Linked DNA regions of Homo sapiens. The protein of the gene in region 2 interacts with the protein of the main gene of each other region in a pairwise test. Each region holds a gene or a part of one and is shown on either strand. Other genes may lie near its edges.

Evidence for each region.
Region 1: the proteins of GDPD5 (region 2) and CLINT1 interact in binary tests that used the Homo sapiens proteins (3 or more experiments, as listed by UniProt).

What each region holds. Positions count from the first base shown.
Region 1 is NC_000005.10:157,799,916-157,807,205, forward strand, and holds part of CLINT1 (clathrin interactor 1), read right to left. Parts: intron 6,198-7,290; coding exon 5,951-6,197; intron 3,805-5,950; coding exon 3,735-3,804; intron 1-3,734. UniProt on the Homo sapiens protein: Binds to membranes enriched in phosphatidylinositol 4,5-bisphosphate (PtdIns(4,5)P2). May have a role in transport via clathrin-coated vesicles from the trans-Golgi network to endosomes. Stimulates clathrin assembly.
Region 2 is NC_000011.10:75,434,140-75,439,231, forward strand, and holds the end of GDPD5 (glycerophosphodiester phosphodiesterase domain-containing protein 5), read right to left. Parts: intron 2,910-5,092; coding exon 2,797-2,909; intron 1,520-2,796; coding exon of another isoform or gene 1,517-1,519; coding exon 1,368-1,516; 3' UTR 501-1,367; downstream 1-500. UniProt on the Homo sapiens protein: Glycerophosphodiester phosphodiesterase that promotes neurite formation and drives spinal motor neuron differentiation.

The DNA.
Region 1 (7,290 bases), on a different chromosome or scaffold from region 2:
CATAAGAAAGGTACGGTAGAAATATAGTATTGTATATGGGACCATGGTCACATACTATGCAGTCCATGACTGTACTTTAAATTATTTTTCATTTCTTAAAATGTTTACTTAGAAATGTACTTTATGTAAAAGCAACTGAAACACCATGTGAGTACAGGTTTTAAAAGAATATCACCACAAGGGGACATTTTATTAAGATATGAGATAGTCTCAAGTAAATCCTGATAGTTAGGTTTTACATATATATTTTTAAACTTGGTAAGATATTCTACAATGATTTTACCATATATACTTTTGAGAATGCTAAGAACATGTAATCACACACACACAAAAATCTGAACATTTTCTCAGAGGATATATTTAGCTGGTGAGTGGTACAGATGCCATATCTGCTTAGCTTTACAGTTTGTGCCCACATTACTTGCATGATGGTACTATTATAAATATGGGCACATCTGGTAAATGACACCCAAATGACATACCAAATAGCAATGTTAATATGGTAGATTCTTATACCTTCTCGTGTAAGTGCTAAAGATTTAATGCCCAATTTCCTTTCACTGCTGAATTCAATTTAAAATATATTATTAAAATATTTAAATAGAGATTGGGAGTAACTAAATTTATGTACTGATTGAAGAGGGAGCTGCACAAACTGGTTAAACATACGGTTTCAAATAGGAGATAACTTTAATTTTAAAAAATTCTTCTAATATCAATCTCTATTAGTTGCTTTTTATTAAGATAAAATAAAATTTAAGGCAAGAAACCTCCTAGATTTCATTCAAACTTTCTCAGTTACTATATTAATATCAATTGCTACTTCTATTTAATTAGTCAAACTACTGTTTGCACTGGAGAAGACAAACCACTCAAAGGTTCCTTGCCAAGTAAAGGAAGCATGTTGGTATTTAATAAATCTCTCTGTTCAAAGCAATCTTGATGTCACAGAGGAAAAGTTACATCCACCCATCTGACCTTCCTAGTTAATTCTTCTCTGATTGCTCCATTAAAACTTTTCACAGATGCATGAAAGGGGCCCTTTAAATATTTCATGCCAGGAAGTCCAAAATAGTTGATATTCTGTGACACTATATCTGTATTATATGACTACATGCTAACTACCAGTTAATTCTACAGTTCAAATCTTAAACATATAAAAATATATCACATAAATTGTTACACAACTAATGTAGCTGTCCGTAACCTTGGGCATTACAGTCCAATCAAGTTTAATGAATAATTTTAGGAACAGTTTGCAGTTACAGAAAAACGGGAAAGGGAATTGAAGAATTTCAGAAAGTAGGCTGGCCAGGCATGGTGGCTCACGCCTGTAATCCCAGCACTTTGGGAGGCCAAAACAGGTGGATCACCTGAGGTCAGGAGTTTGAGACCAAGCTGGCCAACATGGAGAAACCCTGTCTCTACTAAAAATACAAAAATCAGCCGGGCGTGGTGGCGCATGCCTGAAATTCCAGCTACTCAGGAGACTGAGGCAGGAGAATCGCTTGAACCCGGGAGGCAGAGGTTGCAGTGAGTCAAGACTGTGTACTGCACTCCAGCCTGGGCAACAAGGGCGAAACTCTGTCTCAAAAAAAAAAATAGAGAAAGAAAGTAGGTCAAACCAGATGTCTGGGCTGGGTGCAGTGGCTCACACCTGTAATCCCAGCACTTCGGGAGGCTGAGGCAGGCAGATCACCTGAGGTCAGGAGTTCGAGACCAGCCTGGCCAACACAGTGAAACTCCGTCTCTACTAAATATACAAAAATTAGCCAGGCATGGTGGCAGGTGACTGTAATCCCAGCTACTCGAGAAGCTTAGGCAAGAGAATTGCTTGAATAAAGTTCATGCCTAATCCAAGAATTTTAACATAGTAGGTAAGGAGGAGGAAATAATAGGGGGCTTTATATTACATTAATTATACTAAACTATCAGTGAAAAGTAATTTCCAGCATAGACTTACACTTAAAGGTTAAGTTAAAGTTTTTTTTTTTTTGAGACAAGAGTCTTGCTCTGTCACTCCAGCTGGAGTGTAGTGGCATGATCTCAGCTCATTGCAAACTCCACCTCCTGGGTTCAAGCGATTCTCCTGCCTTAGTCTCCTGAGTAGCGGGGATTAAAGGTGCCCATCACCACGCCAAACTAATTTTTGTAGTTTTAGTAGAGACAGGGTTTCACCATGTTGGCCATGCTGGTCTTGAACTCCTGACCTCAGGTGATCCGCCTGCCTCGGCCTCCCAAAGTGCTGGGATTACAGGTGTGAGCCACTGTGCACAGCCACAATTCGGCTTTGAAAAATCATTACACACAACTGGGAATAATAAATTTACTTTGCACATTAGTCATACCCCCATCTTACTGTCTACATTTTAATGTGAAATGAACTTAGGCTTGGAAAGACTGTCTTTAAACAGAAGATGTATTTGTTAAACTATTTTGACACGTCACACAATAGTTTATTAAAACTCCATAATCATCAAATACAACCCTAAAAATATCAATTTTCTTGAAAACAATTGATCAGAAATTACTCAAAATCTAGCACATACTGGAAATCAAACTGAAGAAATCATCAATCTCATCTATGAGAAATTCAAGGTAAACAGTTCTTTTGCTGTAGCCCTCTCTTTTTTTTTTTTTTTTCCGAGATGGAGTTTTTCACTGTTGTTGCCCAGGCTGGAGTGCAATGGCGCAATCTCCGTTCACTGCAACCTCCGCCTCCCGGGTTCAAGTGATTCTCCTGCCTCAGCCTCCCGAGTAGCTGGGATTACAGGTACCTGCCACCATACCCGGCTAATTTTTGTATTTTCAGTAGAGACAGGGTATCACCATGTTGGCCAGGCTGGTCTCGAACTCCTGATCTCAGGTGATCCACCTCCCTCGGCCTCCCAAAGTGCTGGGATTACAGGGGTCAGCCACCACGCCCAGCCGCCCTCTTTAAATATGTTTGGTAGTTACATACTTTCAGAGAATGTCATTCCTCTGACTGAAGCACTTGCCATTGTTTATCACTAGATAACTATTTGTGACTCTGATTAATGATTATTTTCTCCACTTGACCTTCGCATGAGGACAACAACTCTGTTTTTTACAAGCACCCAGATCAGTGTCTGGTTCAACAAATATTTGTTCAATTAAAAGAATAAAAAGTTAAATGATCTCTAGGCATGCCCAAGGTGACAGCTGCAATTAAAATTTAGGGAAAGACAGTAAAATGCGCAGAGCAGTACCTTTTGCTTATAAAGAAAGTAAAGGCAACAGTTTAAATGCAATTTTTTGTTTCTCCAAGTTAATCTTAAAAATTAAAAATGGAAACTATAGATTCCAAAATCTATGATGAAAAATTTCAGAAAGTACATGATGCCTTGAAATACTATTTATTATTAATTAGGGAAGACACAGTACATCAGGTATGAGGAGTCATTAAAATCTAAGTATGATAATGATTTGAGGATACTATTATTAACCACCAATAAGTACTGACCACAAACAAAGTTTTGCTAGTCTGAGGGTGGGTCAGAAAAAGGTATAAAATAGGGATAGAGAAATGGGTGTACATATAAAAAGATAAGCAAAAATAACACAATGATTCCAAATAATGCTCAAGACTCACTAATTTCATATAAAAAATGAACCCAATGCAAATAAGTAATCTTATTTTTCAATCTATCTTTTATTTGGCATTTTAAAAAATGACTCTCAAACCAAAAGAAAAGGCCAATGTAGAAGCTTACCTGTTGACTGGCTGGTGCCATCAAACAGATCAACAAGGTCACCAGATGACTTGCTGCTAGGCACTGAAGTCTGAAAACACACACATAACTCAGGAGCTTCGAAAAGTTTGTTTTTCTAAAAATCAGCTCTATCCATCTCTAATTCTCAATTTAGACATAAATACCTGTAATTAGCTTAATAAGGGTAGGGTTTTCTGGAAAAAGAGTACTGACCTTGAATCCTTATGGAGAGGCAGCAAGCACTTTTAAGTACCTCCATTCCCAGCAGTGTAAAAGTCTCTTAACATTGACACTTTTTTTCCTACCTCACTTTTCTGACTGCATTTCACTCTGGAAAATATTAACTGCCAGATCCCACTTGAATCTTAATGCTAAGTATCAGTTCATTAAAAAAAAAAAAAAAAAAAAATACCCTAGCATATGTACCAGTCCCATACAATACACTGAGTCATAATTGCCCAGGTATAAAAAGGCCAAGACCTTGGCCTGTTAAAGTCTTACAAGAAAGCTCCCTAGATAATTCCAAGGCTTGAGATCCACTGGATTAGAGGTCAAGATCCTAAACAGCTCTAAATTTCTATGAACCTTAGCAAAACTTATTGTTTGTATATCACACAAGTTAGTATAATTCTATGTTATTTGATATATTGATATGTTTCATATTTAGTTCCCCAACTAAACTGAGGCCTATACCTGTAATACTATTTTTATCTTCTCCACAAAGCTAAGCACCCTGATACCTAAATACCTATGTCCTATATGTTAGATATATACATGCTAAATTAGAACTCAATTATTAGGCAATGGGGAAACCCTAAGATCCTAGGCATGTTGATTTGAACTTTGAAAACTAAAATACTATATACTGTGATTCCAAAACACCTTTAAGAACAGATCCAAATGAGTTGGGTAACTTTCTAAGAACTTCAACCTTCTAGACATTTTTTTTGAGGGGAGGAGGGTAAATGAAAACAAAAAAGAAAAAGCTTGTACTGCCGGGCGCGGTGGCTCAAGCCTGTAATCCCAACACTTTGGGAGGCCGAAGCAGGTGGATCACTTGAGGTCGGGAGTTCGAGACTAGCCTGACCAACATGGAGAAAGCCCGTCTCTACTAAAAATACAAAAAAATTAGCCGGGCATGGTGGTGCATGCCTGTAATCTCAGCTACTCGGGAGGCTGAGGCAGGAGAATCACTTGAACCTGGGAAGCAGAGGTTGCGGTGAGCCAAGATCGCGCCATTGCACTCTAGCCTGGGCAACAAGAGCGAAACTCGGTCTTCCAAAAAAAGAAAAAGAAAAAGAAAAAGCTTGTACTACAAATATAAAATATTTATTGCAGAGTGTCATATATTCAGGCTATACTACAAACTGTTATTTAAAATCCTTTAAGATATGTGATAAAAGTCTCTATTATTAAAAAAATTATACAGATATTTGGCAAAAGCTGACATGGTATTTGTTATTGCAACTAAGCAGGCCTGGTTTTATTTTCAGAGTCACCTACAATCTGCTGCATACATTAGAAAACTGTTTTTCCCAGCTTTTAGCTATTTCTCTTGCAAAGACACAAACTGGGGAAACAGTAGTCGGGGAAAGTGACAAAAACAATAATTTAGTCTTTTGAGGCAAATCTCCCTATTTGGCAGATTTCTGTTGAAAAGACTAGGGTTTGGCCAGGTACCTAGCAGGTGGATTTCATCTCTATGGTAAATAAAAACAAACGAAGATGGTACAAGAGGCAGTGCTTCTTTTGATACTGATCAGTAATGACTGTGAGGCAAACACGCCTCCCTTTATAGGCAACGTTTCTACATTACATGAGATAACTTGCCCCTATATATCTCTTCTTACTCCCTCGTTTGTCATTTCTTAAAACTTTCAAATACTTCCAATGTTTTCTTTAGTGAATCTACTTGTGGTTGGTAACCAGTATTGTCTAGATGGGGACAGAGGCACTACATTCTGATTCACAACCTTCCCCAAACAAACCAAAAGTGTCATTTCTACTTTCATAGAAAGTACCCAATCATTCAGCAATTGGACAGGTTTCTCCCCTCAAAGAGATTTCTTATTATTAATGTCTCTTGGTAATACATGCCAGATGATCCATAATTAATATGATTGCCTAGAAATGCCCAAGCCTACTAATGCAGGAATTCGAAGAGCGGTTTATAAAAATAAAACCATGTATAATGTGTAAACTACTGCCATTCCCACCTTAACTGAAGACTGAGGTGTGTGGGTTGAAGCATTCTGATCTGGACTTGCTTTGTCCCCTGTGTAATGTGCTGCTGCTCCAAGATCAATGGTTTTGGAAGGATTTGCTGTGCGCTTGTGTCTGGTTGTGGTGGTCTCTGTGGCCTGTGTGATATGAATATGCTTTGTCGTCACAGTCTCCTCTTCATCTTTGAATTCACCTTTGGGAGATCTGCCTCTTCTCGCTTTCTTTTCCTCATCGCTGTCGCTAAAAGATATTAAAAATGAAGCAAAATAATAAGACGGGATTATTTTAAAATGGGTCCCTCAGTGATTTGAGCTAAAGAATTTCAAATACAGTAACTCCAAAATTTCATACTTTGACTACTTGACAGGGATCAACAGAATGTTATCTAAGCTGTCTGAATAATGATATATGTGCGCTGGGGAGGGGAAGTGGAAACACAGAGAATATCCTATATAAGTCTAAAATACTGCTACAAAAAAGTATTTACATAAATGTGTATAAATAAAAAATGTCAAAATAACTCGTTTTTATTACAGATTTAAGCTTAACTTAAAAATAAAATAGGATTTGATATCAGAATCCATGATAAGACCCTGAGAGTTCAAACACTTGCATGTGATGATTATTTTCTTGACATGGACTGTGTGCAAATTACTATAGTTCCACTTTTACAACACAATTCTGCATCAACTCTCAAAGACTAATGTGTGTACATAATAAAATAATAAAAGTTCAATGGATGCTAAAAAAATCACACATCTTAATTCGAATAATTAAACTCATCTGTAAATGCATGAAAATATAAGGGAATGCACTTTACAACTGTGCTATTTTACTATAGTATCAGGAGATCAAACTTTTATATAACTATAGAAAATGCTTTCTAGAAAACAACTGTATTTAAAATATTTTAAAGATAATTCTCCTTCAGCCACATTCAACAATTTTTTCTTTCCTTTTTCTTTAATAGTGAAAAAGATTTTAAAAACTAAACAGTAAAAGCCTGGGTTTTTCATATGCTAGGAATGAAAATATCAGCCCTAGTCTGTTCTCTAGTAACAAGTCATTGGGTTTTTTTCTGATGTAAGTAGGAGAGAGAGAGAGAGAGAGAGAGAGAGCGAAAGAGAGAGAAAGAGAGAAATGTTACTTGAAACATGTTCCATTACCTGTATTACTTAATTTTAGAGTAGGTGGTTTAATTTATAAATATTCTGGAATATAATGTTTAAAATTCTCCTTTAAACTGCTGATGCAATTTACCTCAGACTGAACTATAGCAACTTGTACTTAAATATAAACCAATCTGGAACTTGTATAAATCAAAGATCAAAAA
Region 2 (5,092 bases):
CAGGCAGGTCCAAAGCTCGGAGAAGTCAAAGCCAAACTCCTGGCATGGGGAAGAGGCCTCCCTGTGCTGAGGGCTTGTCCCAACATAGCCGGGAGGTTCAGAATGCCTTCATGTGGCTGTGAGGGCACCTGCCAGTCCCACTCCCAGCCCTACATTGGACCCAGGAGCCCTCCCCCTCTGCGTGTCATTCCTAGCTTATGGGAGGCACACATATGCGCTGGGGCCAGAGTCTGGATGGGATTCTGGCTTGGCCTGTTCTAAGCTGTGTGGCTTTTGGAGGTCACTTTACCTCTCCAAGACTGTCTCCCCATCCACCATATGAGGATACCGGCTCCCAGCCACTGGCACCATGGCGGACCCAGGGAAGGGGAGGCACCATTCTGCCACTTTCCCATTCATTCCTGAGAATGGTTCCTCCTCAGATTATAGGGTCAGAACTGAAACCTAGACCCAGCGCACTTGTCCCCACCCTCCTGCTGGCAATTCAGAGACAACACACATCAAGATGGCAGCTTTAATCACATTGGCCAAGGGCCCTAGGTTCCCTCTGTTCAGGCCCACTTAGCCACACACCCACCCTGGCCATATCCAGAACACTTCTACCAGGTGGGCCCTGCCCTGTGGCCACTGATGTGGGAACCTGAGGTCACATCAGTCTGTGGACTCCTGGGTTAGGTGACCCTTCTGCCTTGAGGTCTGCTGGACACCTGGGCATGGGATCCAGTAGTCCTGAGCTCACTCTTTTGGCCATCTCCAGCTGCTCCTAGAGGACGTGGCTCAGGCCCGCTCCTGGGGCAGGGGGTTGGCGGTGGCATGAGGTGGGTTGGGGAGGAGGACGTGTCTCCACATTGCAGCTGGCTTCCTCCTGGGCTGAACCTCCTTGTGCTTTGAGACTGACAGGAAGAGCAGAGTTGCTTCAGGTAGAGGCTCGGCCCAGGCCCTTGGGGCAGGATAACAGCAGAGAACTCAGGTGCCTCCTGGCACAGACAGGAGGACAGATGGCACAGGTGAGCATCCACACACTCCATTGCCACAGGGGGTATGGCATGGCCCATGACCCATCAAAGCTTCCAGGTCGGGATACAGGAGAGGGCCTCAGAAGAGGGGGACCAAGCCCTAGGCCCCATACTTCCCAGAAGGAGCCCCAGGCCTGCAGGGGCATCTGAAAGGATGGAGTCCTGGCCCAGCTGGGCCTCAGGAGACAGGGAGTCCCCCTCAAGAGAGGCTGCGGCTGACAAGGGGCTGGAGCCCACAAGGAGGCTGTGGAGCCCGCTCCCAGAGCACTCCGAGTTCAGACACACTTCCACCAGCTCTCCTAGGCTCCCCAGCTTCTGTGTCAGGTACAGGTGGGACAGACATGTCTTCAGCTAACGCCCACTCCGCTCTATGAGGGTCTTGGTGTGGCTGCCACCCCCTCGGGGGCCCACAGGGGTGGCGGTGCTGTTGGCATATGTGTCATAACTGTTGTCTGAACATACGGAGAGCACATCGGAGACCTCTACACCATCGCTGATCTCTGCTGGGCCAGAGGGAGACAGAATGTGAGTCGGGGAGGAGGCAGTCGTGAGGATGGGTGACAGATGGGGCAGGAAGGCTGCACCACCCAGCGGGGCACTTGGAGGCTGATGAAACCACTGGGCTCAGGTCGACATTGAGCCTGGCACTCAAGGCCCCTTTGGTGTCTGCTGAGCACTCTAGCTTCGCCTTCATCTGCTGTCCCCTGGGACTCTGCAGCCACAGAAAACCACCTGTGCCCCTGAGCTTGGCACCCATGTGTCCACTCTCCTCAGGGCCTTTGCATGTGTCAGCCCCTCTCTTAGGAGTGACTGCCCCAACAACACCTCCTTTTCCTACAGTCTGGCTCAAGTCTTCTCATCTGTCACTCAGCCTCCTGGGAACCTCATCGGAGCCCTGGGCCGAGTTAGGGCCTCCTCATGGCAACTCCAGACCCTGCTTCCTTCTGCCCTGGCCATATTCTGTATGGTTGCTGCCTGGGCCCCCAAAATACCTCAAGGACCAGGGTGGGTTCTGGGCATCTATGTCCCCAGGGCCTGGTAGAGTGCTGGACACAGAGCAGAGGCTCAAGAAAGCTCTGCTGAGTGGAGTTCGGCCATATAGAGGGACACTTCATTCTTGGTGCCCAGGCAAGCGGTGCTCCCTTGCCACCTCTGCACACATGCCGTGCCCACCTGGAATGCCCTTCCTTCCCTCAGCTCACTCGGCCCTCATCTTGAAGCCATTACCAAAGCACCTCCTCTGCATCCTCCCCATCTCAGTGTATCAGGCGCCCAAAGCCTTCCTCACTGCCCAGGCAGCTCTGACCACGTCCTCCCGCCCCCCGCCCGGCACTCCCATCGCAGGAACTCGACTTTCCCTGCCACTGTTTATATACGTAGCTGCTGCTTCCATCAGACTGGGAATGTTGACAGGGACTGGCAAAGAGCAAGGGTGAGGCCAACATTGTAGGATCCAAGTACGAACCAGGCAAAGGGGGATGGGCCTTCAAAACAGACTCCTCTCCCTACCCCACCCCTGCCCACCAACCATGGCACTGACACCAAGCCATGGTGGATGACAGGGTGGATGACTGTGTGTGTGGGGGTGTGTGTTTTCACACGTGTACTTATGCCTTTGTATGTCTGTGGGTATAATCCCGGTGGGTTTATGTACGTCTGTGCCCTTGTCCCTACCCATATGTGCCACATGTGAATGTGTGTGCATACACATCTGTTTGCATGTGGGGGTGCAGAAAGCTGGGCCCAGGGCCTGCCTCCACCTGTCTGCAGGGCTGTGTACCTGAGAAAATAAGCTTCTCCTTCATGATGCTGACGTCCCGGCTGGTCCGGCGCACCGCAGCACTCAGCATGATCTGCTCAGGGTTGTAGCTCCGTATGCCACCCAGGCGCCACCTGCAGAGATGGCCCCGTGGGCATCAGGTCTCTCCTCAGCCCTCCCTTGGAGCAGAGACCCTGCCTACTTCCAGAGCCTCTCTGGATGTGGCCCAAGAGACCAGCAGGACTCTTGTCCCACTGTACAATGGGGAAATAGGCCCAGAGAGGGCAGAGTTGGGGCTTGAATCAGAGCCTACTGACTCTCGGCCAGGGCTCCCTGGCCTCCCTCTTACCTCCAGAGCCGCCAGTCAGCAGCCCTGGCCCAGGACTAGGGTTGGTTAGTTCTGTCTCAGGTGTCCCCAGTAATGCACCTGGCTCTCTTTGAATGGGACAGATTTGGGAGCAGGAGGAGCTTAGTAGGCACGACTCTGTTGACCTAAGCTGGGGCACACACCAATCTCAGGGAGTCCCAGCTGATGTCTCTTATAGCTCCACCATCATGACCAGACTAAGTGAAGCCATTGGGGAGACCCCTTGAGAGGGAGGGAAGGAAAGCAGGGGGGTGGGGCCAGGTGGTAGGGGGCTTTGCCCAGAGCTGGTCTGCACAGGTTCCCAAGGCAAGGGGGTTAGAGTGACTTGGAGTGGGGCCAACTGCTGCTCTGTCCTGGCAGTCCTAATGCGGAGGGAGGTCAGAGCATGAATCCCTCTGATGGCTGAGACAGGTGCAAGGTGGGGGTAAAATTACTCAAGAGTGGGCTGGGAGGTGGAGCATGCACAGGGCATGAAGGGACCAGGCACTAAGTGGAAAGGACTCAGGTTTCTGTGCCCAGCCCAGGCCACTGTCTTCACTATTGTCATTCCTCTGAACTAGCCCCAGTCCCTGGCCTCTGAACTTAGACCTTTCCTGGGATCTAGGCAGAAGGATCACTGGACTCTCACCCCTGTCCCCACCAGGAGGAGGGGGTGATCAACTTGGGAACAAGAACCCAACTGCCTCAGGGACTGAACCCTGCTTGGGGGATGGAGAGAGCCAAGACTCCACAAGAAACCAACTGTGAGTTACTAGATGGGGTCAGCGCAGCAGAAGTGGACAGACAGATGGACAGGCGGATGGATGGATGAACAGAGCAGGCAGACAAGGGGAAAGCAGGAGGCGGGGGGTGGCACGGACACCCTGGCGAGGCTGGCTGCCCTATGAATCATTGAGGGCAGTGAGCAAATCTCTCTCTGTTCATCGCTGTGCCCCAGTACCATCAGTGCCTGCCGTGTCCCGGGAGCCTGACCTGTACTTGTTGAGTGAATGAATGGAAGAATAAGGCCCACAGGGAAAGAGTATCCTCCCCCGGCCTTGTCCCCCAGGGTACCTTCCTCCACCAGGCCTCTCCTGATCCCCAGGAGACAATGACACTGCCCTGGCTGTGTCTGAGCAGACCCAGCGTGTCTGTGCCAGCCACTGAATCACCATGGGGTGGCCTCCCCAGCACCCTGGGGCTCCATGTGAGAAGGCCCAACTCCTGCTGCAGACAGCATCAGCAACCAGTGTATGTGGATGTTGGTCAACTGGGCGGACACAGGAATGACTCAAGGAATGTCCCATAGCCAGGGACAGCATCTCCTCCTAGAAGCTGATTGGTGAAGCTGCCTGACCCAGGAGGGGCTAAGGCACTAGACGGAGGGAGACGTGGGTCCCTAAGCTCTAGGTCCCATCCTGGAAATTCATGTTGAAACCCAGAAGGACAGTGTCAGGCCAGGGTCTCTCGGCCAGGCATATCCAGAACAGGAAGCTCAGCCACTGTGGGGTCCTCTGAGGGGAATGAGGAAAAGGCTGTGTGTTGCGGGGAGCAAAGCAGGGATGGGTGTTAGAGATAGAATGTAAAGAAGAGAGAGAAAGAGATGGGAGAGGCAGAGAAAGGTAAACAGGAAGAGTGAACAGTGGGAGAGGCAGAGCCAGGGAGGGAGAAGATGGGAAGAGAGAGGCAGAAACTTGGTAGGGTCTGCCCTGGGCAAGTGGTGAAGGCCCCTGTAAGTGCCAGAGGCAGGGGGATGGGGGTACCCAGGCAGGGTCCCCTCCCCCAGGGAGACACTTTGGTGCAGAGAGGGGCCAGGTCAGGAAGCTGTCAAGGAAACGCTGGTCCCCACCTGCAGAAACGGCCGTGGGAACAGGGAGCAGAGGGACACACACGGCAGTGGGACGGGAGGAGCAGAAAAGAGGATTGCGGGGGTAAGGGAGGCTTCAGGCGAGCGCGCTGTCTGCGAGGTGG